Homo sapiens: one gene and its partners. The protein of the gene in region 3 interacts with the protein of the main gene of each other region in a biochemical or structural test. Each region holds a gene or a part of one and is shown on either strand. Other genes may lie near its edges. The genes, in order: HDAC6, GSK3A, MAPT and MARK1.

Region 1 (9,465 bases), on a different chromosome or scaffold from region 3:
CATCTCCCCATCCACCCTTCCACAGCTGCTTACCCCAAAACTGTGGTGTCAGTCCTGCCTCCCATCAGCTCTGGTGTGTGACCCTCTCCTCACCACTGCCACTGCTATTACCATACCCTCCCGCCTGGGCTGTGGCGGCATCTCCTCGGCCTCCCTGCTTCGACCCTCGCCACCTCAACGGTCCTTTCTGTGCATAGCAGCTAGACACTGGTTAAAACCCTAATCAGTTCATGTCCCTTCGAGGCTCCCATCCCATTCTGAGTAAAAGCCAAAGTATTACCCATGCCCAGAAGGCCCTAAACAATCTGTCCTCCATCACCTCTCTGACCCCATCTCCTACCCCTCCCTCTTTCCTTTGCTTCGCTTCACCTACACTGGTCTCTTCCCTGGTTCTCAGTTGAACCAAATACTCTTCAGCCAGCCCTAGAACTTTACTCTAGCTGGCCCCCCCACCCCCGCCTAGAATACTCTTCCTCCAACTGTCTCCATGACTTACTCCTTCACCTCTTCAGATCCCTGCTCAAATAGTGAGGCCTTCCCTGACCAGCCTATTTAAAATTGAAGTCTCCTCCACTGTACTTTCTCCTACTATCCTCCCTTTACTGCTTCTTCATAACACTGCTCTTTCTACCACAGTGCATCATTTACTTTTTGTTTATTTATTGTCTGTCTTCCCCCTTTACCCTGAAGACACAGGCTTTTGTTTGTTTTGTTTACTGCTGTATCCCTAGCTCCTCAATAGATGGTAAATAGGTATTCCATAAAAGAAGTCTTTTTCCCATAGTAAGTTAGTCTTAGGTTGGGATAAGGGATATAGATATTAATTGGTAAACACACAAGTATGATAATTAGCAAACAATGTCATGGGCTAGGAAAATAAGATCAGGTATTGGGGTAGGGTTTGGCCAGGCAAAACCTTCTCTGAGAAAGTCTCATTGGGATGTGAAAGGCAGCTGGAAGAGTAGAAGACCGAAAAGAATCTCTGGGAAAGGGGTTGGTCAGGGTACAGACCAGAGGCAAGAGGGTGCCTGGCATGTTGGAAGAACAAGGGGAGTAGTGTGGGCGAGAAGGATTGGCTGATGAGGTCACAAAGTGATGTGGAGCCAGATCATGTGGAACCTTTGAGGCCAGGATGAAAAATTTGGACTTTACCTTGAGGGCAACAGTTTGCCCTTAAAGTACTTTTTTTTTTTTTATTTTTACTTTTTGAGACAGAGTTTTGCTCTTGTTGCCCAGGCTGGGGTGCAATGGCACAATCTCGGCTCACTGCAACCTCCGCCTCCCAGATCAAGCGATTCTCCTGCCTCAGCCTCCCAAGTAGCTAGGATTACAGGTGTGTGCCACCACGCCCAACTAATTTTTGTATTTTTAGTAGAGACAGTGTTTCATCGCGTTGGTCAGACCGGTCTCGAACTCCTGACCTCAAGTGATCCACCTGCCTTGGCCCCCCCAAAGTGCTGGGATTATAGGCGTGAGCCACCATGCCTGGCCTCCTTAAAGTATTTTAACAAAGACATCAACTCATACATATTTTTTTAGGTTGCTGCATGAACAGATAATAGAGGTGAGGTTGGAAGTAGGGGACCAGGGAGGAGGCCTCTGCAAGTCTAGGTGAGTGATGATGATGGTGGCAGTGGAGGTGGTGAGGAGAGGTCAGATGGTGAATATATTTTGAACATATAGCCAAAAGGATTTGCTGATTCTTTTTGAAAAGTAAAGCAAACGGGAGGTTTCATCCTTCTGTTTCAGTACAAACGTCTCTTCCTCTATAAAGGCTTCTGGGAAGCCCGGATACTAGTTTAGGATCCTCTATTATACACCCTTGAATCCCCTGGTCTTAAGTCTGTCTTCATTAAACACCTCATACTGCTGTTGGCTGTTTAATGATCTGCCCTCCTACTCATCAATCCGCTCCTAGAGAAGGACCCCTGTCTGTTGTTTGGTACATTTGTATCACCAACTCTTGGCACACAATAGGCACTCAATAAATGTTTGTTAGCTACATAAAAGAACCCTTTCAAGTGTGAGCCCTACCTCCCCAAATCATCTGCTTCCAGTATCCAGGCTGGGGTAAGAAAAGATTTATTCTTGCTAATGGGCTCTAAGTGTGTGTATTTTTGTGGTTTGGAGACAGCCTGGAGGACCCAGCCTCACCTGTCATCCCAGAGGCAATGGAATTCATTTAACTGCTCATCCAACACCAAGCCAGTGCCAGCCAGTGCTTCAGCCTCAAGGTTCAGATCCTGCAGAGGAAAAAAAAAAGGAGACACAGATCCATTTTAGGCCCTGAGTCAGAGGGAACTGTCCAGGGTGGGGAACCTTTGGGTTTTGATTGTCATACGAGGCTAAACTGCAGCCAGGCCCTGCTCACCATCCCTTGCAGTCCCACGATTAGGTCTTCTTCCATTGCTTGGCCGAGCTTCTTCATTTTGCCTTTCTTCTTTACCTCCGCTAGATTGGGGATAGAGCGGGGAACGGCTCCCTTTTTAATATTTCGCTTCTGTGAATCAGAGAGAAGGGTCAGAGTCCAGGGCATGACCAACTTGCTCCCTCTCCCCCTCATCAGGGCGGGTCTAGGGCCTCACCGAAGTGACACTGGAGTCCTGAGGGGGCGACTGGGGGTTCTGCCTACTTCTTCGCTGCCTGGTTGTGGTGGAATCCTGGCCGGTTGAGGTCATAGTTGAGGAGGCTTGGCCCCTGCCGCGGTTCTGGGGGTGGGGGGAGGAGCGTGGGTATGTGAGGGGGCTAGTGTGCCCTGAGGACCCCACCTCTCTGCCCTTTTCCAGGCTCCGCCCCCTCTATTAGATTCCATTCCTTACGCGATCTGATTCTCCACAGCCTTCCAAACTCCGCCTCTCTCAGGCCTTCTCCCTCCACTCAGGTGGCCATTCTACCCGGCCCCGCCCGGCCCGCTAGACTCCACCCCTTTTACACGATTCTCTTTCCCTGGTCTTGCCCTTTCACGGAGCAATGAGCCCCCGGGCTCACACAGTCCGTCTTAGGGCCTGCCCTTTCCAACCAATCACCGCCCCTTCTACTCTCCTAAGCCCCATTCCCAGACCCTCTAAGCCCAGCCCAGACCCCATTCCTTCACGAACCTGCCCTTTCGGCCTATCTCCCGGGATAATCACCCACCCTTTCACTCAGCCGGCCCCGGCCCCGACCCCGGTTTCGACTCCACCCTTAACGATTCACTTAACTCCACCCCTTATCGGGCCGGACCGGTACCTTCCACTCCGCCAGATCCCGCCCCTAGCGTTTCAACCAGCCCCGCTCCTCAGGGGACTGCCCCGTTCCTTCAACCAGCTCCACCCCCTGCCCAGACCCGACCGCTAACGTTTCGCTAACCCTCTTCAGCCAGTCCCTAGCCGCCTTCGGTCGGCCTCCGCCCCCTTCCCGCCTCCGCCGTCGACGCGCTGTACTCACCGCTCCACTCATTGGACGCAGCCCCTTTCTCAAACTCCGCCCTTGGCTCGCTCCACCAAGTTTCTGGCGACCTGTGGGGACGCGAGCGCTCAGGCTTTTCTTTTCCATTGGGCCTCGTCTCTCGACTGCCCGCCCAGATCCCGCCTCCAGAGGGGACCGTGCCTCAAGGCCGCGCCCCTCGCGCGAGCCACACCTCTCGCGAGCTCACAAGCGGCGGGGCGGTGCGTCGGCGTGCTACGCCAGCTGGGCTGAGCCACACCGCGAGCTCACAGGCGACGGGGCGGTGCGTCGGCGTGCTACGCCAGCTGTGCTGCGCCTACGTAAAAGGCAGGCGCCGGCGGTTCCCGACAGGGCTGCGGTGCAAGCTTTTTCTTGCCTCGGCTATCGTCGCTGTCGTCCCGGATGCCATAGCCGCCGCCCCTCCGTCCCTGTCCAGTCACTTAGGAGCCCTTCGGGTCGGCGGTGTCTGGAGAGCAAGCAAGGAAGCGAGGGAATTAGGAAGGGGCATCTTACCTTTTCCCCGCGACTTCCCGCGCGACGCGCCGTGATGACGTAGCGCGGGCGGGCTGGTTGTGGCTGGGCCGAGAGCGAGGTTGCCACTGGACGTTGGTGGTGGCGGCCAAAATAGGCGTGGTGACGATGCTAAATGTGAGGATTTTCCGAGTTAATATTCACTATGGTGGTACACAGGAAACACTGGCCGAATATTAGCTATTAATATTCTGCCGCAATATTCTGAGTGGAAGGAGTCTTAGTGGGGGCAGGGAATGGTAATGATAGCAAGTATTATGTGACAGGCATCGTTGTAAACCACAATTCTATGAGGTAGTTCCCATTATTAAGGCTGCTTTGCAGATAAGGAAACTGAGGTTACGGGACTTAACCATGTGACTTTGGGCAAGTTGCTGAACAGTTCTGTGCTCCGTTTCCTCATCTGGAAAGTTGTGATAATAATAGTGCCCAGGGCCAGAATGGCCTTGAGGATGGGAGTTCTCATGGGCAGCAGCTCTCCCTATCTGCCCCCTCCAACGGGTAACCACTGCTCCCAAGCAGTAATAGAAAGTGTGTGTGCGTCTGGGGAGCTGTCCCTAGGCACCCCCTCTCCCCCGCAACTCCCACTCCATGTCTAAATGTCAGCTCTGCAGGAGGCCGGTTTGTCCTCCTAATCTCCCTGTCTCATTCTCCACCATTTCCTACCGGGCTATAAGCTGGGACCGGAGAGATAAGCAGTCCGGGGGTTCTGCATCAGACTGACAGATTGACGGTCTCACCGCCCAGTAGCTTTGCCCTCTGATCCTCTTGAAGATGTCCTGCCGCCTCTTCCCTCTCACCCCTCCTACGTGAACCTATCTTTTGTCTCAGCGCAAAAGAGTTGCAGACCTAAGACCTTTAAACCCCTACACTCACCAAAGAAAACACATACAATGATAACACACTACAAAAAAATTCTAGAGTTCTGATACCTGCAGCCTGATAGAGTAGGGAGTCTTGCAAAGGGTCAAGGCCCATTTTTCTGTTGGATCAGAAGAGAGGTTTCTGAAGAGCAGGGGTCAGCAAACTTTATAAAGGGACAGAGAGTAAACATCTTAGGCTTTGCAGGCCACATACGGTCTCAGTGGCATTTTTCTTTTTTTCTCTTTTTAAAAAACAACCCTTTAAAAATGTAAAACAGCCCACAGTCTGGCTTTGGCTTGAATGCCATAGTTTGCCGATCTGTGCTGTAGTGTCAGGCCTTGGTCTCTATCTGGCTGGTATTCTTTTGCAGGATTGAGGGTAGGGGCCTTTTTTCCTAAGGAGAGGTATTCCTTTTGTGTGAGGTGTGTGAGGACAGGGATTCATGGGCAGGGTCAGGTCACTTCTAGTGTACCTCTGGTGGGTCATTCCAAATGTTCCTGGACAGAATGAGGACAGGGATTCCTATGGTTTCTATATTGTACCTTTACTGAATCAAGCAGGGGTTTCTAGAGAGCTCCAGACTATGGGTTCCTGTTCCTGTGCAAGTTAAGGATTAAGGTTTTGTTTTTTTGTTTTTTTGTTTTTGTTTTTTGATACAGGGGACAGGGTCTCACTCTGTTGCCTAGGCTGGAGTGCAGTGGTGTGAACACGGCTCACTGCTGCTTCAACCTCTTGGGCTCAAGCTGTCTTCCTACCTCAGCCTCCCAAGTAGCTGGGACTACAAGTGCATGCCACCATGCCTGCCTAATTTTTTTTTCTTTATAGAGATGGGGTCTCGCCATGTTGCCCAAGCTGGTCTCAAACTCCTGGACTCAAGCAATCTGCCTGCTTCAGCTTCCCAAAGTGCTGGGATTACAGGTGTGAGCCACCATTCGTGGCCAGGATGGGGCTTCTTAGACCTATGTTATGACAGCTTCCTACAAAGAGATCAGGTGGGCCAGTACTGGGTCACAGGTGTTTCTGTATAGGTTCAGAGCTTGTGTTCATATAGACAGTGAGATCAGGTGTCTAGATTTCGGTCAAGAGATTATTATTGGCCAGGCAGAATGGCTCACACTTGTAATCCCAGCACTTTGGGAGGCAGAGGAGGGCAGATTGCTTGAGCTCAGGAGTTTGAGACCAGCTGGGCAACATTACAAAACCCCATCTCAATAAAAAACACAAAAATTAGCTGGGTGTGGTGGTGTGCATCTGTAGTCCCAGCTACTCGGGAGGCTGAGGTGTGAGGATCGCTTGAGCCTGGGAGGGGAGGCAGAGGTTGCAGTGAGCCGAGATTGTGCCACTGTACTCCATCCTGGGTAATAGAGTGAGATCCTGTCTCAAAAAAAAAAAAAAAAAATTACTGGCCAGGCGTGGTGGCTCACGCCTGTAATCTCAGCACTTTGGGAGGCCTAGGTGGGCAGATAATTTGAGGTCAGGAATTTGAGACCAGCTTGGCCAACATGGTGAAATCCCATCTTTACCAAAACTACAAAAATTAGCCGGGCTAATACACCTGTAATCCCAGCTACTCAGGAGGCTGAGGCAGGAGAATCTGGGAGGCGGAGGTTGCAGTGAACCAAGATTGCACCACTGCACTCCAGCCTGGGCGACTCCATCTCAAAAAAAAAAAAAAAAAAAAAAAAGGAGAGAGAGAGAGGGGGAGAGATTATTATTAATTAGGCTAAATTATCCTAGCTGCTGTAACCCAGAATTTCAGGGGCTTAACGAATAAATGTTTATTTCTTGCTCATTCAAAAGCCAATCTGAATATTTACTACTGTTCATTCATGGACCCAGGCAAACTCTATTTTGTGACTCTGTCCTCCTCTAGGTCCTTGGAGTTAGTTGGTTTTCAGTTGGTAGACAGGGAAAGAGAGGAAATGGAGGATTGCATGAGAGATTTTTATGGGTCAGGCCTGGAACTGGTATATGTCACTTTTGCCCATACTCCATTGGTCAGAACTCTGTCATGTGCCCACATCTATCTGCAGAGGAGGCTGGAATAGGTAGAGTGAGCTCAGGAAGAACAGGAACAGGTCTCAATGAGCTTATAGCAGTGTCTGCTATAGGGTTCCGTAGACTCCACAGACCTATGCTGTCCTATATGGTAGCTACCAGCCACGTGTGGCTACTGCTCTTGAAATGTGGCCAGTCTAACTTGAGATGATGTGCTATAAATGTGAAATGTACACCAGATCACAAAACTCAGTATAAAAAGTTTAAAATAGCTCAGTAATTTTTATATTGATTACATGTTAAAATAATATTTGAATATATTGGGTAAAGTTAAGTATATTGATGTTATTGAAAATAATTTTATCTTTTTTTTCTCTTTTTAATGTGGCTACATTGAAAATATAAAATTACCCGTGTGACTCACATATTTCTATTGGACAGCACTGCTATAGAAATTTCTCTTTAAAGCATTGAGACAGGGACTCTTACTGTGTAGGGGTAGGAGCATCTCTGGGTCAGGTTAGTGTTTCCTGTCTGGGGTCAGGAGAATGATTCTGTTACCTGGTAAGGCAGGTTTGCAGGGAAATACAAAGGTTGGAGACATTGTAAAGTGAGAGGGAAAACTGTGAAGGCATTTTTTCCCATACAGATTAAGGTTAGGTGTTCCTTTTGAGGCCAGGAGAGTGGTTTTCTGTAGACGGCCAGGCCAGAGGATCACAGCGTACTCAGGCCAGGTATTTCTGTCCAGGATCAGAGCTGTGTTACTAGAGACAGACAGATCAGGTGATTCCATTGGGGGTTAGGTCAGGGGTTCCTGTACAGTCTCCAGGCAGGTATTCATGGTGATTCTGATTATGGGTTGTTTAACAAGTACAGAACAGAGGTTCTTGTACAGTGTAGAGGTTTTTTATACTGGTTCATTCTTTGGATTACTCTAAAGAGGCAAATCAAAGGTTCCTGTTGAGTGTAAGGGCAGGATTTTCTGTGCTAGCTCAGGGCACAGGTTCCTGCTGGGGGTAATAGAGGTTCCTGTGCGGGTTCAGGACAAAGATCCTCTGTGTAGTTAGGACACTGCCCCTTCAGAGATTCAGGTCGGTGTTTCTTTGTTGGGTCAGGGCAGTGGTTCCTGTACAGGGTGCAGGTGGGGCTTCTGGGACAAGGCCAGGGAAAAGGCTGTTATAGAGAATCACATTAAGCTTCCTGTTCAGGGTAAGCAGTGTATTTCCAGAGAGTAAAGCTAGGAGTTCCTATAAAGATCAGAGATTCCTGTAAATTACAGAGATTCCTGTAAATAAATTACTGTAAAAGTAAAGGATTTCTGTTGAGGTTCAGGACAAAGGCTTTCTGCAGAGACCAGTCAGAAGTCCTGGAACAGTTTTAGGGTCAGGCTTCCTGTAGAGCAGCGGTCCCCAACCTTTTTGGCACCAGGGACCGGTTTCGTGGAAGACAGTCTTTCCACGGATGGTGGGGGATGGTTTGGGGATGAAACTGTTCCACCTCAGCTCATCAGGCAGTAGTTAGATTCTCATAAGGAGCACGCAACCTAGATTCCTTGCATGCACAGTTCACAATAAGGTTCGTGCTCCTATGAGAATCTAATGCCACTGCTGATCTGACAGGAGGCGGAGCTTAGGTGGTAATGCTTGCTTGCCTGCTGCCCACCTCCTGCTGTGTGGACCAATTCCTAATAGGCCATGGACCAGTACCAGTCCGTGTCCTGGGGGTTGGGAACCCCTGCTGTAGAGGGTCAGGGTAGTGGAGCTAATACAAGGTAAGGCCCAGGAGCCTCGTGCAGCATCAATAAATGCGACCTATATAGTGAGAAGGGGGGGTCCTGTATCAGGTGAGGCCATAGGTGCCTGTATAGGCTGAGGTCAGGGCTTAAAGTAAATGGTCAAGACAGGCATTCCTGCCATAAGGTCAGGAAGTGGTTTTCTATACAAGTTAAAGACTGAGGTTCATGTTGAGAGTTGGATCATGGGTTCCTGTGGACTCTATGGGATAGGGTGTGAGGTCATGGATTGTTGTGCAGGGCAACATCAGGGATCATTGTCAACAATGAAGGCAAGAGGTTCCACACACAGTCAGGGTCCTTGAAGAGGTTGAGGACAGGGATTTCTGTAAAGACAGAGCTGGGTCCATGGTTTACTACTCAGATTATTGTGAGTGAGGTGTTTTTAAAATGCTACCTGGAGGACAGGACTGCAGCAGTGTGAGTACAAAGGTGTTCCTGTCTGAGGTCAAGACAGGATTCGTATAGGGAGACTGAGGCTTGTGTGGATGGTCAGGACAAGGGTTCCTGTCCAGGGTGTGCAGGGGCTTCCTTACAGCTTAGTCCAGATGTCCCTAGCTGGGGTTAGGCAGAGGTTCCTCCTATTCAGGGTAAGCGCTGGCATTCCTGTACAGGATCAGGATGGGTTTCCTGTCGATAATTAGATGAAGGGCTCCCCTAGAGCTTCAGAGCTAGTCTTCTGTACCAGGCTGGGGGAGCTATACTTATGGGGGTGAGGCCCGGGGCTCCTGAACAAGGTGGGGCCAGACATGTGTCCAGCACAGGTTCTGAAGGGGGTTTTTAGAGGATGGGGCCTCCTGCAGGGTGTGAGGGCTGGGCTTCTGAGGGGAGGCCAGACACGTGTCTTTTATGGG
Region 2 (4,394 bases), on a different chromosome or scaffold from region 3:
TCATGGGGTGGTAGAAGGGTGAGGGACACCTCACTGACTTCACGGCTGACCACGTGTGAGTAGCAGGGAGGAAGGCGTCCCCAGGATCCCAAGGTCTGCCCCTCGCCCAGAACAGCCATCCTCCCCCTTATCCATCAGCTTGCTCTGTATGTTCATTCATTGATACTACAAACCAGGCGAAATCTGGGTGGTGTTGAGCAAGGAAGGGGCAGGGTCTGTCCTATCCCAGGCAGTGTAAAGATGCCCCTGGAGTGGGTTGAGCAAACTGGAGAGCCCAGACCCCACAGGAACAGTCCCTTCACTCCATCTGGGACATTTGAAACTCCTCCCTTTTTGTTCACCGGTGGAATCCAGTAGGGGGCATACCCATTGCTCCTCCCCAGGCCCCCTTCCACCTCTGGGGTGTCCTGGCCACACTCACTGCTCGGTGCCATGTGGAGGAGATAACATTTCCTTCCGCCCATGCCCCACTATCTGGCCCCAGCATGTTTTAAGTGAGGATAAAAGTCAAGTTCTCTGTCCCCACCTTCACAGGGTTGTCACTTCCCAACATCCCTAAGAGGTGGACCAGGTAGGTGTCCTGTTTAAGACTTGGAAATGAAGGCTTGGAATCTTCTAGGGTTCCATCTCCAGCCATGGCCACCCAACAAAGAGTCTACAAGCAGGCTAAGTTTTGGCCTGAGTGACTCCTCATCATCTCATGTCCCCCCAGACCCTAGAGCAGCAGGCAGCTTGGGCTAAGACAGACGGCCCATTGTTCAAGTCCTGACTCTTCTGTCACTTAAGCTCCATGGCCTTCCCCTCTCTGATCCCCAGTTGGCTCACCAGTTACTGGGAGGTTAATCCCTCCCTCCCTAAGCAGAAGCAGATGATTTATGCTGGGTCATGGAGCAGGCTCCTCCTAGGCCTCTACAGCAGATAACCCAGATGGAGCTCATCACCACACGTGCAGAGAAAGCCACGGTGTGAGAAGGTTGGGCACCTGAGCCAGGGCCTTCGGACAGCCCTCTGCCTGAGATGCAGCTCACTCCCGTCCCAGAACAGTCCCCCCACCGGAAGCCCCCACCACCTCAGCGGAAACAGGCAGCCGGACAGAAAGCAGGTTTTCATGCCAATAATTTATTGAACGGAGGTCTGTACACAGGCAAACCTTACTGTGGAAACTAAGACATCAGGAGCTCTCTCCACTCCCCTGGCCCTCCAGGGTGGGGTGAGGAGGGAGTAGACCTTGGGGGCAGAGGACAGGAGGGGAGTTACAGCTGTAGGAGGGGCGGGGCCAGGTTGGACGGTGCGAATCGACGTTTTCTTTAAGAAAAAAATTATAACAATCTATTTACACCCGGGGGCCAGGGAAGGGAAGAGGAGACGGGCTGGGCTGGTTCTATTTACAAGGGACACAGGAGGGGAGGGGGTCTGGAGGAGGTGGAGGTCTGGGGGAGGGGAGGGGGCCAAGGGGGTAGGAGGTCCTCATCCCCCCAACACCCTGTCCTTCTCTTCCCTCCCCACAACCAGTTAAAATCCTCTTAAAAAGCCCACCACAGGGGTGAGGCTGGTGAGGGAGGGACTGGAGGTGGGGACAGGGACTCATTTACCTCTGCCCTCTAGTCTAGGGGCCCAGCCAGGGCAGGAGCTTGATGGGCTATGGCCCCCCTTCCCAGCCCCTCTTGGGGCTCCCAGATGGAAGTGGAAGGGTGCTTGGTGGGGCCCTCAGGAGGAGTTAGTGAGGGTAGGTGTGGCATCGGTCGACTGCCAGTCTGAGCTGGTCGGAGTCTCAGTTAAAGCTGGAGGGAGGCAGGGAAGGAGCAGAGTTAGCCTTTGCCTTTCAGACACCCCTTCGCCCAACCCAAAAGTAGGAATTCTCTTGTCATAGATGCTACATTAAAAGTTACAAGCTGTTACTTTAGGTGAAGGGTTGCAAACTCAAGTGCTAAAGGGCCACGATAGTAACTGAGTGACACACCAGAGTGCCAGGCTCCATATAAGGCGGTGGCTGGGCTGGGCACAGTGGCTCACGCCTGTAATCCCAGCACTTTGGGAGGCTGAGGTGGGCAGATCACAAGGTCAGCAGTTCGAGACCAGCCTGGCCAACATGGTGAAACTCCATGTCTACTCAAAATACAAAAATAAGCCAGGCATGGTGGTATGAGCGTGTAATCCCAGGTACTTAGGAGGCTGAGGCAGGAGAATCACTTGAACCCAGGAGGCAGAAGTTGGAGTGAGCCGGGATTGTGCCACTGCACTCCAGCCTGGGTGACAGAAAAAGACTCCGTCTAAAAAATATAAAGGGCGCCCACTGTCTACTGTCAGTAGGATGGGCGGGCCCATTGCTGCCCAATCTGATTTTCTTCCCCAAGAGAAACAGGAAATCTGAATTTTTACATAAAATAGCCCCATTTTTAAACGTGGACACCATGGCCAGGCACAGCGGTTCACGCCTGTAATCCCAACACTTTAGGAGGCCAAGCGGGAAAATCACCTGAAGTTCAAGACCAGTCTGGCCAACATGGTGAAACCTCATCTCTAGTAAAAATACAAAAATTAGCCAGGCGTAGTGGTGTGTGTCTGTAATCCCAGCTACTCGGAGGCTGAGGCAGGAGAATTGCCTGAGCCCAGGAGGCGGAGATTGCAGTGAGCCGAGATCGAGCCACTGCACTGCAGCCTGGGTGGCGAGTGAAACTCTATTGCACAAAAAAAAAAAAAACAAACTTGGGCAACGAATTCAACTTTTTGTTTGTGTTCAGGCCAGACGTTATTTCTCTGGCTTTCCCATTGGCATTAAACACATTTAAACATTTGTACGCAAGAATACCCTCTAAAGGTGGTCATTCACATGTTGTAAGATGTGTTTCCTATGCCATCAAAATGTCGATGATTTAAAAATACATTCAGGAAACCCAGTCACTGAGCGAACAGCCCCACCCTCTCCAGGCTGAGAGATACTTTAACCCCCAGCAGATGGTCCCCACTTACCTTGTGAGGACGGGGTGAGGGTGGTAGTGCCCGCTGGGGACCTCAAGTGAGGAGGGATGAGAATGGCGTTGAGAGACGGTTGGATGGAGAGTTCTAGAAACAGGAATTGACATGCTAGTCAGGGTAGACTACAGCAGGGTTATGATGGGCACCAAATGGGAACCCAGCTATTGGGAAGGCCAGTTGTTTGTGGACACCTTCAGCCACAGACCTCTCTCAATGAAAAACCAGAAAAAGCTTAGCACAAGGCAGATCACAGTAAAGCACAACTGAAGCAGGTTCGATTCCCCCTGAATCTGGGAGTCATCTTTCCTGAGCCCCAGGCCTGCCTTGTACCCTGCCCTTAGCTCCCCACTCCTGCTTCAACACCAAGCTCCTCACAATCTTTGGCTGCCCCCCTACCCCGCCCCACTCCCCAGATCCCAGGCTATGCCCTCACCACCAGCACTGAAGTTGAAGAGAGGGGGAAGTGGGCGGTTGTTAGGCAGCTGGGTTCCCAGACATCGCAGTTCATCAAAGAAGCTGTGCGCACAGGCCTCTAGTGGGGAGAGCCTTGAGGATGGGGTGTACTCCAGCAGGCTAGAGCAGAGCGCGATGGCCTCTGGCGGCGTTCGAGATTTGAACACCTGAGGGATGGGTGCAGGGCTCATGAGGGTGAGATGCCCTGGACACTGGCATACTCCTGTTATCTCACTGCCACAGTGCCTGCGGCAAGTTATGACTGGTTGCTTCCCACACCCCCACCTTCCAAATGAAGAAACTAAGGCCCAACCACTAAGGAGAGGTCAGTTTGTATCGGGTAAGCAGGCAGCCCAGGTCTGGGACTATATGAGCCCTGCTGACCCTCCATAAAAATTGGAATCTTGAATTTACTTGTGGGTTCTCAACTTTTAAAATGCCATAAACTTTGAAAGCGGATGGATGTTATTGATCCCTGGATAACTCTTCAAATCCTCCCAAGCCGTGATTCTGAGGCTAGGTCCACAGAACAGTTGACCTCCAAGGGGGACCAGCTCTCAGCCATACTGCCCTGAGCCCCTAGCCCTGCCCCACCTTTGTCCAGGGGTGAGCTTTAATCTGAGGGAACTTGAACTCCGTGTAGTTGGGGTTCATCTCTCGGATTTGTTCCCGGGTTGGTGTTCCCAGCACCTGTAAAGAGAGGGAGGGGTCTGAGACAAGGGCCCCATCCCTCAGCCCCACCCCCTGCCCAGCCCAGCCCCGCCCCTCACCTTGATGATCTCCACCAGCTGGTCCACCCCACTGTCCCCAGGGAAGATGGGCTGGCCCAAGAGGAGCTCTGCCAGTACACAGCCAGCTGACCAAACATCTGAGGGGAAATGGAGGGAGCGTCAGGGCTAGGCGAGTAGGGCCACCAACCTCCCAATGCTTTTATTCCTCATGGCCATCCTAAGAGTGTCAGGAGC
Region 3 (8,481 bases):
CCTCTCTGAGCTCAGAGGCCTTAATTTGAAAATGGAAATAATTATAATCCCTGCGGCCAGCGTGGCTCCAGGAGGTGGTAGATATGCTTTGCCAACCTCTAATACAATTCTTCAGGGCCTTTATCCTAAATAAGGGTGATGCAGTGACGAGACCCAGCTGTGCCCTCAAGCCTGGACGCTTCTGACCCTTTCCCCACAGGGTGAATGTTCAGCTGTTCAGCTGTTCGGCTAGTTCAGGGCTCCTGCCAGCACCCTGGCTCCTCTGTGGGATTTGGCCTTCAGAACAGGATGCCTGCTCCACGCCTGCCTGTCCCTAGCTGTCCACACGAGCCATACCGCTTCATGCTGCTGTGCCCTGACGTACAGTTCCCCACCTGCCATGCATAGCAGTTACTAGCGCACCCTTCCAACACCCTGGAAGCTGCTGGGGGGTCTCTTCTCCTCTCCATGCAGATGCTGTCCCTCCCTCCTCTGGGTGTCCTTTACCCTCAAACTTGCTTCTGTTACTGCACTTCCCAGGCCCCCGTTACACTTCAACAGTCTGGTATTCTATCTCATGGGTCTGTATTTTCCAAAGTGTGGCCCACGGAACCCTGCGTCAGAATCTCCGGAGCTTTCAAGGAGGAAAGTGGGAGTTGCAAAATGCAAATTTCTCGATCCCCTTCAAGAGTGGATAGAGCAGAATCTCTAGGGGTGGGACCTGCAAAGCCTCATTTTTCTCAAGCTCCACAAAGACTGAAGTCTGAGAACCGCAGGCCTCACCCTGTGCCGAGGTGTGCTTAGCTCCCCTGCAGTCTGAGAACTTAGCTTTCCTGCAAGTCCAGAAGCTTCCCGCAGCAATGCCCCTGCCGCTGCCCCAGGCATTTGCTGTAACACATACCTGCTGGCCAGACCTGGAGAAGGGCAGCTCTTTGAAGCACCCATGTAGCCAATGGGCAGCTTGGCCAGTGACGAATAAGCACTAGTTTTCTTTTGTTGTTGTTTTGTTTTTTTGTGGTTTTTTTTTTGAGACGGAGTCTTATTCTGATGCCCAGGCTGGAGTGCAATGGCGTGATCTCGGCTCACTGCAACCTCCGCTGCATGGGATCAAGCGAGTCTCCTGCCTCAGCCTCCCGAGTAGCTGATATTACAGGTGTGCAGCACCACGCCTGGCTAATTTTTGTATTTTTAGTAGAGACTTATTTTAGTAGAGACTGGATTTTTGTATTTTCAGTAAAGATTTCTTTAGTAGAGGTTTTACCATGTTGGCCAGGCTGGTCTTGAACTCCTGACCTCAGGTGATCCACCCGCCTCGGCCTCCCAAAGTGCTGGGATTATAGGCATGAGCCACCGCACCCAGCCAGCACCAGTTTTTAGAATTTGACTTCCATGTCTTTTTTAAAAATAATGTTTTTTATAGAGACGGGGTCTGACTATGTTGCTCAGGCTGGTCTTGAACTTCTGGCCTCAAGCGATTCTCCCACCTCAACCTCCCAAAGTGCCGGGATTATAGACGTGAGCCACCGTGCCCTGCGGATTTCCATGTCTTGGATGTTCCTGAAGTAGTACGCTCTGTGGCAATAGGACAAACGAAGCCTCTTATTTTCCACATAAGGAAACAACAGATGGGGCCTCGGCCTCCAGGGCCTCCAGGCTCAGCCTCTCTGCCTCCTCAGACCTCCCATCCTCCTGCCTCCCTGACTTCAGAGACCCAGGGTGACCAGTGGGCTTGGTGGTGGTGGCTCCAAATACTTTTCATGCCTCTTATTTACAGAGTGGTCGTGGGCAAGTCACCTGACCTCCTTAAGCCTATGTCTTCATCTGAAACATAGGGAGACAGCCAGGCATGGTGGCTCATGCCTGTAATGCCATTGTCCCTGAAGTCAAGGAGAGCACACAGGATTAGAAAGCCCATCAGACAAACACAGCTGCGCAAACTGCACAGGGAAGAGAATTCGGACTGCTCCATCTTCAGGCTGCGAACCCTGTGTGAACCCTGCATTGCAGAAAAGGGTCCTCCCGGCTCTAGAAACACAAGCCAGTGAATGGCCACACACGCAAAGGGAGGCTGCTCCCAGCGAAGTAGGCTCCCGAGTACCTCTCTCAGATCTGGGCCCTGCAGGGGGTGGTCTTCTCTGGACTTGCTTAGTCGCTTAAAGAGAAAAATCCACGAAAGCCTTATTATCATCAGGCTTAAACAGGGCCTTAATGAGTCCTTCACGTGGCAGGCACCCACAGCTGGCCCAGCAGGGGCCCCATTCTGAAACAAGGTCGAGGGGCCCAAGGGGGAGGGTCTCTCCACCTGCAGGCAGCCACCGAAGAGCAGGTAAGACCCAAAGGGAAATGCATCACGTTGTTTCAGGTTGTTACAAAGTGTGAGTCCCCTGTAATCCCAGCACTTTGGGAGGCCGAGGTGGGCGGATCACTTGAGGTCAGGAGTTCGAGACTAGGCTGGCCAAAATGGTGAAACCCTGTCTTTACTAAAAATACAAAAATTAGCAGGGCGTGGTGGCCTGTGCCTGTAGTCCCAGCTACTCAGGAGGCTGAGGCAGGAAAACTGCTTGAATTTGGGAAGCAGAGGTTGCAGTATGCCAAGATTGTGCCACTGCACTTCAGCCTGGGTGACACAGTGAGACTCCGTCTCAAAAAAACAACAACAAAAAACAGAGTGTGAGTCAACTGGCCCGATGTTAAGTGAAAAAAAAACAGCAGGATCCAAACGCTACTTAAAATCCTGTCAAAATTCTGGGAATTATCCCTGGATCACATGTATATGAGAAAAACACCAGGCCAGAAAACACGAAGCGAAAAGACAAAAACAATGGGCCTTAGTGAATGGCCATCCTTGGGGGTGCCACTGCACGGCATGTGTGCGAGAAATGCCACCGCAAAGACACGCAGCAGGTGGTGGGCAGGCTCTGGGCAGCTCCCTCAGGCCAGGGAGAAGCAGAGTCACCAAGATCCAAGATCCAGGCCAGGCTTTGGTCACAGCCCGCAGCAAGTGCCATAGGCTGCCCGTGCCACCAAGGAGCAAGTGCAGGTCAGACACCCCTACATGGTGCAGAGTCTAAACCCAGGGGCCTGGAATACTTCACTGGGGCAATGGAAGAGAGAAGTGCTCGGGCAGGCAGGCAGGCTGTCCCTAATCCCCAAAGAGGACGACTGTTTTTTTTTTTTTTTTTTTGAGAAGGAATCTCACTTTTGTCATCCAGGCTGGAGTGCAATGGTGCGATCTCAGCTCACTGCAACCTCTGCCTCCTGGGTTCAAGTGATTCTCCTTCCTCACCCTCCTGAGAAGCTGGGATTACAGGCGCCCGCCACCACGCCCAGCTAATTATTTTGTATTTTTATTAGAGACGGGGTTTTGCCATGTTGGCCAAGCTGGTCTCGAACTCCTGACCTCAGGTGATCCGCCCACCTTGGCCTCCCAAAGTGCTGGGATTACAGGCATGAGCCACCACGCCCAGCCGCGACTGTTCTTAATAGCACTCCTGGCTGCAAAATAACTCAATGGATGCCTTACTGGGTACTCAAAATTGACTGGGTTTTACTCACAGGAGCCCAGGGCAACGGGCCCAGCCTGTGACTGCTCAGCTAAGACCCTCAGGTTTTGCAGCAGACTCCTAACGTCCCTAGCAAGTTAAGCTGCCCAGGGGTTGAGCCCTGAGTGACGTCACCCATTGTGACTTATCCAGGCTGCTGCTCTGTCTCCAGAGACATTTGTCTCCAGAGTCTCATTTGGGGACTGAAAACATGCCATGCTGGGGCTGCCTCTATGGAACCCTGGACTTGGGGCCAGAGAGGCTCCGAGAGCTGCCACTTAGTAGTCATGTGACTGCATTTTCCTCGGGTTTAAAATGAGCTGGTTAGACTCAGTCAAGCAAACTCTCAGAGGCTCGATTTCTTTCTTTTTTTTCCTTTTTCTGTATTTTTTTTTATCATGCTGCAGAATCAGCCTCAATTTCTTCATTGATAAAAAGTGAGGATTCAGGCTGGGAGTGGTGGCTCATGCCTGTAATCCCAGCACTTTGGGAGGCCGAGGCAGGTGGATCACCTGAGGTCAGGCGTTCGAGACCAGCCTGGCCAACATGGTGAAACCCTGTCTCTACTAAAAATACAAAAAATTAGCCGGGCATAGTGGCAGGTGCCTGTAATCCCAGCTACTAGGGAGGCTGAGGTAGGAGAATCGCTTGAACCTGGGAGGTGGAGGATGCAGTGAGCTGAGATCACACCACTGCACTCCGGCCTGGATAACAAAAGCGAAACTCTGTCTCAAAAGAAAAAAAAAAAAAAAGGTAGGGATTCAACATTTGCCTCAGAAATCAAAAGGACTGAGAAGGCAATGAAGACTCCAGTGCTTAGTAAACTGCAAGCTGCTGACCAGCTGCCAGGGGTTATTCATTCTCAGTGGCCTAAGGCCTCCTAAAATGAAGGCTGTACCTCTGAGAGCTTCAGCTTCCTCTAAGATTCAAGAGAACGTTCTTCTTACCAGAGCTGGGTGGTGTCTTTGGAGCGGGCGGGGTTTTTGCTGGAATCCTGGTGGCGTTGGCCTGGCCCTTCTGGCCTGGAGGGGCTGCTCCCCGCGGTGTGGCGATCTTCGTTTTACCATCAGCCCCCTGTAAATGAAACATGATAGAGGGGTTTTTCACCATTGGGAAAAGTTACTGCCACCAAGAGTCAACACCAGCCCCACTCCGCCACCTTGACTCAAAACGTGGCTAAGACTGGGGTGACCCTTTGCCTCCTAGATGCCACTAGTGTCTGCTACAACCACAAGGGCTTGCTGGGCACACAAACCCACATCCCCACCCAAACTCCAAGTTCCCTGAGGACATTTCCTCCCAGAGGAACTGTGTGCATTAGTTATCAGCATGAGTTGTGCCAAGGCCAGCAGAGCTCACAGCAATGATCAGGTCACTCTCCACTCCATGTCAATCATCGGCAGGACATTAGTGCACTACACATATGCAGACATCCATTTTCTGACTCTAATTATGGATTTATTTGGCTGATGGTGGTTGGCTCCACCAGAGGCCCCTGGGGGCAGTGTTGAACCTGACCAAGGATGCTAAAGAGAGCTAGGTCGTGTTCTTTCATTCTCTCGCAAACAACCCTAAGGCCTCAAGAACTCCTTGGGTGTGCTCAGACCAGGCGAGCACCCGAGGAGGCGAGCACCAGCATCACTGACAAAGCTGGCAGAGTCGGGCATGGCACAGTCTAGGGACTAGGGCAGTCCCTGGGTTCCGTTACCCAGCAGATGACCCTTAGACATAACACAAACTCAAAAAAGAAACTGACATTAACCAAGGACCACAAGCTAGTTGAGGGGGCAGTGAGCTCACGGGGCAGTGTTGCTATGGCGTGATGCTGTCCTACCCAGATCAGGGCAATCTGGAAGCATTTCTCTTGCCAAAATCAGGAATGGGCAAAGGAACCCAATGAGAGTAGCAATTTTGGGTTTGTTTTTTAAACAATTTTTGCGACAGGGTCTTGCTCTGTCGCCCAAGCTGGAGCTAACTACAACCTCTGCCTCTGGGGTTCAAGCAATCCTTGTGCCTCAGCCTCCCGAGTAGCTGCGATTACCACCACGCATACCACCACGCCCGGCTAATTTTTGTATTTTTAGTAGAGACAGGGTTTTGCCATGTTAGCCAGGCTGGTCTCGAACTCCTGATCTCAGGTGATCCACCCTCCTCGGCCTCCTAAAGAGCTGGGATTACAGGTGTGAGCCACCGTGCCCAGCCTTAGAGTAGCGATTTCGAAACCAAGGTCCCACCAGGTGTCTTAGGAGCTGCTGCTATGAGAGCCTGTGGGGTGCTGAGAGGGATGGCCCCCAGCTCTCTTTTCCCCTTTGCCCAGAATTCTAACTATTTTACACGGTGCTTCTATGCCAGAACTCATTTGAAGAAAGGTCTTTGAGGCTAAAAAACAAATAAACAAACCCCACATTTGCAAACCACAGCAGAGCAGCCTGGTTCTTTTCAAAGGTGGTTTCCTTACCTTGAGTTTCATCTCCTTTGCTCCAGAACTGCCAGTTCGGGAAGTGACAGAAGAGACGTATTTAGGAGAGGAAGGTGGCTCTGGGCACACAGCAGGGCTGGAGGGTTGGATCAGAGGGTCTGAGCTACCAGGAGTGGGGTGTTTGGGGCTAAGGCAAGGCCTATTTTTCAAGGTTTTAGCAGAGGAACGTGTGGATGTCTTAAACATAAACATAAATAAAATCAAAATAAAAGTCAGCACATGGAGGAGGGAAACAAACTGAAAAAAGGACAGTAACTAAAAATAAATAAGGCAGGTAATGGTTGAAAGCAGTGATCTCCAGGCTGTTTGAATCAGGTACCCTTAATATCCCTTCTGATCAGTAAGAACAGGAAAGTGACCGTCCTCCCCAATCACAGTTCTTTTTCTTTTTCTTTTTCTTTTTTGAGACGGAGTCTCGCTCTGTCGCCCAGGCTGGACTGCAGTGGTGCAATCTCGGCTCACTGCAAGCTCTGCCTCCTGGGTTCACGCCATTCTCCTGCCTCAGCCTCCCGAGTAGCTGGGACTACAGGCGCCCACCACCACGCCCGGCTCGTTTTTTTGTATTTTTAGTAGAGATGGGGTTTCACTGTGTTAGCCAGGATGGTCTCGATCTCCTGACCTCGTGATCCACCCGTCTCGGCCTCCCAAAGTGCTGGGATTACAGGCGTGAGCCACCGCGCCTGGCCCTGACAAAGCTTTTAGAAGAGGACATGAAAAAGGAATGGAAGTTCTAGTACGTTCTTTCTCCAGCCTGTTGGATGTTACTGTGCCCCTGAATTTGGAGACGACTGGTTTAAAGGTGCTTCACATGAGTAAGTTGATGGAGATCATCAAGGTACATGAATCTTAGGATGTTACTCAAGAAAATGTCCCCAAGTGTGTCACGGGGTCTGAAGGGCCTTACTTTCTACTCAATTCCAGGCAAGGTGCTTTTTTACCTGCCCATTAACCCATGGCCTCTTCCACCACACTGACAGACTCATATGGCTACAATCAGGAGTGTGCCCCCCCCAAGTTGGAAAGATTCTACCTGACTTAGGTTACACCCACCCCCACCACACATGTGCTTTCTGATTAAAGTCTCAAATCAAACTAATATTAACACTATCTGGTGAATCCTAATCTGGCCAATGTTAACTCTTTTGTTTGTTTGTTTGTTTGTTTGTTTTAGAGACAGGGTCTCCCTCTGTTGCCCTGGCTGGAGTGCAGTGGTGCCATCACGGCTCACTGCAGCCTCCACCCTTTGGGTTCAAGTGATCCTCCCACCTCTGCCTGGCCAATTAAATTTTTTTTTTGAGATGGGGTCTTGCTATGTTGCCCAGGCTGGTCTAGAACTCTTGGGCTGGGGACATCCTCCCACCTTAGCCTCCCAAAGTGCTGGGATTACAGGCATGAGCCACTGTGCCAAGCCTCCAATGTTATCTCTTTTTCTTTTTTTTTCAGTTTGTCAGTGTAAACAACACTGCTTACTTTTGAACCCATTCCACAAGAGGAAGCAGCCAGGGACGGGTGTCTGCACGCCTGTCCCTATGGAGGCGGGGCTGGGGGGGGCCCTGGAACCAGGATGCAGGATAGATGGTGACTGACACCCACAGTTCGTCCTGCCCGTGGGGGATTTTGACGGGTGGGCATGGCCCTGGAGGAGAAGGGGGTGTTTGGAGGGGAACAGGTCACACTCTCGGGAAACAAAGTGGGGAGGCTAAGCCTCGAAGTGTTTCCAAGAGCAAGTCAGAGCTCAGAGAAGGGTCCTGTCCCAGACTTCACTGGGCTTCTAGGGGATGCTATCTTATTGCTTTCCAATTCCCCATGGAAGCGGCCAAGGCCCTCTGTGTGGTCAGGCTTGGTAAGGAGGACCCAGGAGATGAAGTAGCAATGGGAGAGGAGGGACACAGGCTGGGGCCCTGGGGCTGATGACAAGAAAGCAAAGCTGGGGTGGGGGTATTGACGACTCCTCCTTCCCTCGCTGCACACGGCCCCTCTCCACCAGCAGCACTCCCCAGCTGGCCGAGGCCCAGGGTAATAGATCTTTCCCCTCCCTAGACTCTGGGCAACTCCAGGGCAGGGATGTTGTACCCATGTGTACTGAATGAATGAATGAAGGAAGGAACAAATGAATGCATGCATGCATGAGGCTGGTATTCCCTGCCCCCTGCCCCCAGCACTAAATGTGCACCGTGATTGACAAGCAGCTGTCACTATCACTTCAGAGACCCAGGCCAGCTCTCCAAATCCCCACAGGCCCTTCCACTGCCTCACTAGATGAGGCTGGGGAGCCCTGACTCTGCAGGCACTTCCGGGAGCAGCCCTCAACACACCACTGAATGCTCAGAGCTATGTGGCAACTGGAGATGCCCTCCGGGCTCCAGTACTGATTAAAATTCAGGTGTTTCAGACAGAATTTATGCTGGAAATTTTAGATACCTTTAAGAAAAATAGGTCTTATCTAGAGCCATGGTGGGATTTTCCAGGAAAAACGCCACT
Region 4 (8,481 bases), on a different chromosome or scaffold from region 3:
TTGAGCAAACTTCTACCATGACAGTTTTCTATTACTAGTCAGTCTGAGACTATTTCTCATATTTTTCACCATAACCGCATGTAATTTATCATTTATTGAGCGTCTACTCATTTTTGTCAAGAGGCAATATGAGGTGAAAGTTTGAAATTTTTTTTTCATAATCTTCCAATTCCCAGCCATGATTCATTTGAAGTCATAATTTATCTTTTGGTTTAGTTTAATCTAAAGTTAAAACTATTTAATAATTATCAATAGCAAGATTCAACTTCAAATTTGTAATTATGTATAATTCTAGTAGTCGCTCAATTTAGAAAATATATACATTAACCTTGTAGTTAGCAAATAAACACCAATTTCCAAATAAGCAATTTCTTTTAGAAGTTATGCTAACAATTCATGCACATGATAAAATATCACAGCAAATTAACAGCCTATCCATGTAGGCAAGTCTAAAAACACGGATTCAATCTTAAATAAAAACACTGACCTTACCTGGATATCCACCTGCGAAATAAAACCAGGAAAACACTACTAATTGTTCTGTGTTGCATGTAATTAATATTTTTGAAGTCTACCAAAATTTTAATGCTTTGTTATTTTTAAAGGTAATTAAATATCTTGTGATAAAGGGTAAAATACTATTAAATAGTGGGAAAAATCACCAACTTGAATCCTTAAGTTAATACTGTCTTAATGTTTTAGCCATTCCAGAAACATTTCTATTATTTATGTAAAACGAATGCAATAAGAATAAAATCAGTGGTACTCTCCCATCCCCCAAATTCATAAAACACACCCACATACCAAGCCCTAAAATTTTAAATTGTTCTTAAGAATATGAACGCCTTATGCCTCTCAGGGTCTTTAACTAATACATGCCTTTCTTAACAAACATATTATGAAAAAAAAAATTTTTCTATCTGAATTTAAAAGAATACTAAAATGTATTCTCACATTCAAATGTAATTTCTTAAATTTCTATTTTTAATAACTGGCATTTTCATTGGGAAGTATAATAAAAATTCAATGCCATCTATACAAATCCATTTTTATTATAGCACATTGAAATAAATAAAACATTTTTGAGCAGGCTGAAAGTGAAATGTACATTTTCAGTTACATGTAGATGAACTGATATACACAGATGGGCAGTATACCAACTTGGCAAGCAAGACAGTAATGCTGTTGACTCCCACTGCTAAGACAAAATTCCTTTAGGAAGGGACAAAAATCTCACTGGACTTTTCTGTCCTATTTATATTATGCTTTATTATTCACTATTAGCAAACACCTATACCACAGCTGCCAAACTTAAAACATTAGGAGTGAAATGTCCCTTAGACCCTATCTCCTCTGCTGTAATTGACTGAAATAGCAATTGACCCATACCCTGTTCCTGCCTACCTGGATGCCAGTAGGAACATTGGAAAAATTTCTGCTACTTGGCAATTGTTTCAAAGAGCCCAGGAAGTCTGCTTTAAGTAGCCATGGTAGGAGGCAGATGGAGCTACAGAAGGTGCAGCTGGCTCTAACAGCATATGCAGCACAGCATGCTCTCCAACACTTAACACTTAAAAAACAATTACCTACAGATAGCAATATATACTCAACTGAACAAACTGGGTTGTTCCCTATATAAGAATGAGCTATGGTTAGAAAATCATAAGGTTTGGTGTAGAAGTGAGCCATGCAGGTATTCAGGGCAGAGAATTCCAGGCAGAAGGAATAGCAGGTACACAATGCCAAAGCAGTGCTTAATGTACTTGAGGACAGTCTGGTCCCTGTGTGGCTGGTGTGGAAGCAGCAAGGGGAAGAGTGGGAGAAGAGGTCAGAGCAGAAATGGATGGCCAGGTTACACAAGGCCCCACAGGCCACAGTGAGGGCACAGAATTGTATTCTGAGCAAGGTGAAAGCTAATCAGGGGCTTTAAATTTAAGAGTGACATGATCAGACTTGACATGACACTGCTGAAACAGAAGAGGAGGACAAGGACAGAAACTAGGAGACCTATGAGGAAGTGAAAGATGAATAGTGGTTCAGAGTATGAAGGCAGTGGCGGGAGTGATACAAGCAGTTAAATCCTGGAAATGCTGTGAAGGTAAAGCCAACACAAATTGCCAATGGATCTGAGGTGGTATGAGGAAAAGAAGTGTCAAGGATAACTCCAAGGCTTATGGTCTGAGCAACTGTAAGGACAAGGCTGCCAATTTCTAACACGGTGAAGAATGAGGGAGGGACAGGTTTGGGAAGAGGAACGAGAGTTTACTTTTGAACATGTTCTGTTTCAGAGTCTATAACGTATCTAAGTGGAGAGGCTGAGCAGCAGTTGGATATGAGTCTGCAGTTCAGCAGAAAGATGTGCGCTAGAGATACAGTTAGGAGTTGTTCATACAGGACGGAATCTAATGTCATGAGCCTGACTGAGATCACCAAGAGTGTAAGGAAAACCAGAGAAAAAAATGTGTCCAAAGACTGAGCTCTGGGGCATTCTAATATTTAGAGGTTGGGGGAAAGGCAAGGGAATCTGAAAAAAGCCAGCAAAGGAGCCTGAGAAGTGATAGCTAGTCTGTGAGGTAGGAGAAAACCAGAGCCAAGCAAGGGAAACGCTTTAAATGTGTGGAATGTTTCAAGATAGTAAGTTGCTCACAGGAAGGCAGGAGACCCATCAGTCTCACTCACTGCCGTAGCAATAGCTCCTACAAAAGGGCCTTGCGTGTAGTAGGTCTCCACATATGTGTTCAAAGACTATATGGCAATCTTTATCAGAACCTCCCAACAGACCAGCTCTAAGGCACTTTCTTGCTTTGGCATTCTATCTCACGACTTCCTTTCCAAAGTACTCTGTTTCCCCTAGAGTCTAAATTTTTGTTGCAGTTAAGAGAAATATTTTGCACAATGCTTAATGCACAATTAGTAATCAAGCACTAAACTATAAACCTATTTTTCTTCACTTTAAAATTAATTCTGGCTTAACCATGAGAAAGTACTGGCTTTTTGAAATGGCCTTAAATAGACAAATTCCAAAAGCAGAAACTACTGATAATCTGACTAGTACCCTGCAGATGGCCGGCTAACACTATGATCTAACTTCCATGCTGACTCTGTTGGTGAACTTTTAGTTCTTTCTCTAGCAAGTTTCATGCTGCATAGTAATTGCCCCAATGGTACAAAGTCACTGACTGATATGGTTAGAAATTTATGTTACATTTGAGGCTTTAAAGTTTTTAATTCAGCTATGTGATACTGGGCAAACTGATGTATGAACCAAGCCTATAAATAGCTCCATGACAAGGCAAGTAAGACTGAAGCTGCTTCTTCTCTTTTCCACATCCACTCTTTGAAATCCTAGAAACACTAATAACATTGGAAACTAAGTATTTAATTAGTATTTCTTAAAGCAAGTATAATTATTTCTTACCCATCATTGAAGGCTCAGCTGAAATGATTATATGATAGGGTGCCTTCACTGTCTCCCTAGATAGAAACAATTGTGTCTTCCTCTGGAATCCAGCATGTTGCCCACACTTTTTAGCACATGTTCTGCTTTATATCATGGCTAGTTGTTTGTCTGCTTCTTACAAGACTATAAGAATCTGGAGGGCACAGATGCCATCTTACCTATCTTTAGATTCTGTTCTGCACCTAACACAGTGCTTTGTCTGTCGCAGGGCTTAAGTAGGCATTTAGTGGGACCAGGAATAGATGAAATCCACATCAGCCTGCATTGTAGTAGCAACTTGTATCATCAATGTGCACTGTACACGTATGCATAGTAAGCATAGTAAGTATGCTTACTTTTTAGAAAGTATAATTGTATTGTTTAAGTAGATTAGACCTTTACTATACATGTATTCATTTTGTGTTTACTATGTTTTGATGATAAGGTTTTATGATGTAAAATTGCATAAGTGATCTGTGACTCTGGTGTGTAGGCTTTTTATGCAAGAAGAAAAAAATGTAAATTATATATTATTAGTAAGCAATTTAAAAGTATTGTCAAGATAAATTTGAAGGAAACATGTAAACTCATTTCTTTTCCTCAATCAAGGCTTTTAAATATAAAATAATCTTTTGTTAAAACACACATTTTTGAAGTTAAGTCTTTGTTCTTTCCATTTTATTTTACAGATTTTTAAAATCTCATTTTGTCCATTTTTTCCTTTCTCTCTCTTAAGGAAAAATACTTTATGTCTTCCTAGATTTTTTTCTTCCAACTCTGTAAAAGAGCAGCTCTAATGAAATGTTATGAAACCATTTTAGAAAATTATTATAAAGATTTTTTTAAAAAGTCTAGTTTCCTTTATAATTTCTAGAGGAATCAAAACACGACAGTACATTGGTACTGACCTGCGAACAAATTTGGATGTGATTTTGCTTATTATACCAGTTGACGTTCCCCTTCTGGCATGTGCAAATGCACCCGTTTCATGGGATGGTGAAGCAGGTGGCCCATTATAAGCAACGCTGCGTCGCTCCCGGAGCTGTTCACCATGGAAAGTGCTTCGGCTTGAGCTCCCTCGGGGAAAACGGGTCCGGTCTGGAGTCGCAGTACTAATACTGTGAGCAGATGGGGAAGCAGCAGGCACTCTCTGGGTTGTACTGCTGGGACAAATTAAGATATATCATTCAGAATAATGACAAGAAAACCTTTCACTCAAGCTAAAAACTTGAAACAAATAGCTATGGCTACTTCTTTTGGCCCTACTTTATTTGTTCACATTAGAGATGTGAGACATGGGTTTGGAGTAAAATTTCAGTTTGAAATTAGGTACCTTTTGTTTGGTCACTAAAAATCAAGAAATGACTGAAACAGGGACACAAAGATAAATACTTTTCAGTATCAGGAATGCCAAACCAGGAGTACTGCAAATATTTTTTTAATATTCTCCTGAAACCACTTAGCAATGTTGAACACAAATTTTATTGTTTATTAAAAAGGCTTTGAATAAAATAATTTCCTATTTCTAATTTAGGCCTCAGTGATGCTACAATACCACATGGCACCACCAATATGCCTAACAAATCTAACAGAGGGTTAAAATGTTCAGATGTACTGAATTTGGGAAATCTTAAAATAGAAAAATACTAGAAAAACAATTATACAATTTTATATCTGAACAGGCTCTTTGAGTTCATCAGTTTCATTGACAGGAAAACTGAAGCCTGGTTTTATTAAGAACAAGGAATTGAGCCTGATCATTATCTGCGGGTCTCAACTCACAGTCTAGTGTTTGTTCGTATGGTTTAAATAATAAAAAAATCAATTTACCTAAATGACAAATTAAACAGCAATTTTTAACTTTATAGACGGATGTAAAATCAAATCCTTAAAAAAATTCCTCTAGAAAATGATTTAAGTTATATGCAACATTTCCAATAACAGCCAAAGTACATAGAAAGTTTATGTTACAATTCAATTTTTCCTCCATAACAAACACTGAATCTTATTAGAAAGGTCTTAATGTGATGGTGACTATCATGTATTTTCACATGGTGCTATATTTTTAGAAACTCTTAATGAACAAAATGAGATGTAACCAACACATTACCCAGGCCGGTAAGCTTCAGAGCCGTCTTTAATGGTTGGCAGTGTGACTTTAATAGGATGACCAGAAGTGGACATGGACTTCTGGTGGCGGGGTCGTGCTGAGGGGACAGCAGAGGCCACAGAAGAGCCTGCAGAAGATATGCTACTCACAGACATCTCCGTAAGGCTTTCACCATAAAGCAGTTGAGAAGACCATGGAAAAAAAGAGGAAAATTTGTGGTTTACTAAAATTTAAGAACTATATTTTAAAAAATCTAAACTGACTAACACCTTTCATGACTGAAACATTTGAAAGAAACTAACATTAGTGGCATTATTAATGACTAACAAAACAATTAATATTCTTATGAAAAGTATACAGGGTGAATTTATCACTATCATCTATGAAAAAAATCTCACACACACTATGTATGTAAATGTGAGAAAGTACAAAATTATTTTTGTGGATATACGATAGTTTCAGATAAAATTATTATGACTGGAGTCATTTTTTACTTCCCCAAAGTCACAGTTTGGTGTGATATGTTGCTGTAGTTCATTGTCCATTATTCATACAATCAGAATTGATAATTATACCAAAAATATTATCTCTAGATTCATCAAAACACTTTTAGATCATATTATGAGTCAATAGGTTAACTGTTGCAGATTAAAGGAGCTGCAGATTAAAATTTAGTATAGGAAAAATCATAAGTCTGAAATCAATTTCCAATTATCTTATGTCCAAAGAAGATACATTTTTCTTTGTATGCCTTACAATAGCACTTACTTTACATTCTTATTAAGTGAGAAGAAACAAATGTGAGAATGGGTTGTACACACTACTGAAATGACTGAAGGTGGTACTAAGAAAATAATTTCATTAGAATAGGCTCCATGTCTTTGTACTATATTGATGAGTAGTCCTTGTGACTCATGATAGAAAGAAGACACATCTTTTAAGTAATAAAAATAATATGATTTATTATTATTTGAAATAAAACACTTTAAAAATTATGTGGTTCTGAATGATGAGAAATAAGATGGTCACATTTTTTTCAGAGGGAGAAAAATAAAGCCTTTATTGAGATACAGCAATGACTTGATGGGAAGTGAAAGGGAAGGAGGCAGCAGGTGCATAAGAGAATAAGATTCAAATTATGAAGATGAAATTAGGATGGTATGATCTGCTTTGTTATAGAAAAATATTTACTATCAGATTTTACTCAGAAATTGGCAGGTAAAGAGATTTGTTTCTTGTTTTCTCTAAATGTTTTCCCATCCTTCTATCCTGGTACAGGAAAGATGTCTTACTAAGAACGGTTGGTTGCAATCTTACTATTTCATGTAATAACTGCTTTTCTCCTGACCCATTCGGCTGCAGGCATTTCAGCAAGGGCACTAACACAGAACAACAGCAAAGGTATTACTACTTGGCACTGTGGCATTTACCTGCTGTCTTTTCCATTCTGCAATGCTACGTATCGATCTGTGGTCCTTTCACAGACATATGTATTCCTTCTTGCCATGCTACCTCCAGAATACACATTGTTCTTCAAGAATAAAAAAAAGGCAATTAAAAAATTATAAATATATTTGTGGAAAGCCAAAGAAATGTATTTAAGCTGACTTTGAGAAAAATCCACAGAATTTTAATTGATCAGAATCTTATATTAACAAGATTATCCCCTGCCTCTCTCTAATTTAGATTTCAGAAGTAAAAGACAAAGCATCAAAAATGAACTCATTACAGTTTTAGCTTATCCTCCTATAATAGCAGCCAGCAGTTTGGAAGCAATAGGAGAGCTGGGTTTCTATTCACTCCCTCCTTTGTGAGCTGGTGGTAGAGAAAGGGCAGGAGCAGGGGTGTGAGCAGCTCTAAGTAACAAGGAGTGCAAGCCAACTCCACACTAAGTATCATCACCAACAGGAGCCTCGGGCAGTGAAGATGGCATGCCCACTCAGAAGCCAGTGGGCTGCCTTTCTTCACCTGCTTGGGAAACTCTCTCAACCACCAGGAATATTAAGCAGACTAAATGCCCCAGGATCAAAGGCATGTCCAGCTGAGGCCACCAACAGTGGTGTGTGCAGTGCCACCCTGAAGATATTTCCTCGAGTCTCAGGTTTGAGCTAGAAGGCAGGCCAAGTCTGAGGAGCCTTGGAGAGAAGAGAGAAAATAAGCAAAAAGGGATAGGCAGGTAATTCTCCTTACCATGCACACAACCTTTGACCTGTAACCCACTGTTGTGCCTGCCAAATCCTTGACTACTCACCAGTAATAAAATATACAGAAATGATTTTCAATGTGGATATAATACTCTTCTGTTTAATCCTTACCCAACAGAACAAAAATTTTTGCTACTTTTGACTAACCCAGCATTTAAAATATATAAGCAACCTAAACATTGTTGAATCATGAGGGCTACAAACTTAATAGATACTTGCTTGAATTCACTTTGAAGAAGGAAAAAAACTCATATAAACAAAACTGAATACAGATTTAAAATTTTTCAGTAGTGCAGGTTCCTAGATGGAAGGAATTTTGTCACCAGTTATATAAAAAGCATATGCTAAAAACTATAAAAGTATGGTAGCAAAACAGGCTAAGATTATTAAAATGTTTAGGTAAGACTTGGAACATGTAGGCCAATTGTGATGGCTCATGCCTCTAATCCTAACACTTTGGGAGGCCTAGGAGGGCAGATCATTTGAGGCTAGGAGTTCAAGACCAGCCTAGGCAACATGGCAAAACCCCATCTCCACAAAAAATACAAAAAAATTAGCTGAGTGTGATGGCACACACCTGTAGTCCCAGCTACTCGAGAGGCTTAAGTGGGAGGATTACCTGAGCCCAAGAACTTGAGAAGAATACAGTGAGCTGTGATTGCATCACTGCACTCCAGCCTGGGCAACAGAGTGAAATCCTGTCCCCCAAAAAAAAAAAAGACTTGGTC

Evidence for each region.
Region 1: the proteins of MAPT (region 3) and HDAC6 form a complex in vitro, tested with the Homo sapiens proteins (4 studies listed by BioGRID, with this or other methods).
Region 2: of the proteins of MAPT (region 3) and GSK3A, one has a biochemical effect on the other in vitro, tested with the Homo sapiens proteins (4 studies listed by BioGRID and IntAct).
Region 4: of the proteins of MAPT (region 3) and MARK1, one has a biochemical effect on the other in vitro, tested with the Homo sapiens proteins (4 studies listed by BioGRID).

Annotation. Positions count from the first base shown.
Region 1 is NC_000023.11:48,795,906-48,805,370, reverse strand, and holds the start of HDAC6 (protein deacetylase HDAC6), read right to left. Parts: upstream 3,305-9,465; 5' UTR 3,229-3,304; exon of another isoform or gene 2,820-3,228; intron 2,709-2,819; coding exon of another isoform or gene 2,679-2,708; coding exon 2,586-2,678; intron 2,501-2,585; coding exon 2,372-2,500; intron 2,244-2,371; coding exon 2,155-2,243; intron 1-2,154.
Region 2 is NC_000019.10:42,229,087-42,233,480, forward strand, and holds the end of GSK3A (glycogen synthase kinase-3 alpha), read right to left. Parts: intron 4,298-4,394; coding exon 4,200-4,297; intron 4,120-4,199; coding exon 4,024-4,119; intron 3,597-4,023; coding exon 3,410-3,596; intron 3,064-3,409; coding exon 2,971-3,063; intron 1,782-2,970; coding exon 1,708-1,781; 3' UTR 1,104-1,707; downstream 1-1,103. UniProt on the Homo sapiens protein: Constitutively active protein kinase that acts as a negative regulator in the hormonal control of glucose homeostasis, Wnt signaling and regulation of transcription factors and microtubules, by phosphorylating and inactivating glycogen synthase (GYS1 or GYS2), CTNNB1/beta-catenin, APC and AXIN1.
Region 3 is NC_000017.11:45,987,574-45,996,054, reverse strand, and holds part of MAPT (microtubule-associated protein tau), read right to left. Parts: intron 6,178-8,481; coding exon 5,980-6,177; intron 4,596-5,979; coding exon 4,469-4,595; intron 2,132-4,468; coding exon of another isoform or gene 2,078-2,131; intron 1-2,077. UniProt on the Homo sapiens protein: Promotes microtubule assembly and stability, and might be involved in the establishment and maintenance of neuronal polarity.
Region 4 is NC_000001.11:220,649,219-220,657,699, reverse strand, and holds part of MARK1 (serine/threonine-protein kinase MARK1), read right to left. Parts: intron 7,081-8,481; coding exon 6,980-7,080; intron 5,715-6,979; coding exon 5,550-5,714; intron 4,603-5,549; coding exon of another isoform or gene 4,600-4,602; coding exon 4,348-4,599; intron 1-4,347. UniProt on the Homo sapiens protein: Serine/threonine-protein kinase. Involved in cell polarity and microtubule dynamics regulation. Phosphorylates DCX, MAP2 and MAP4. Phosphorylates the microtubule-associated protein MAPT/TAU.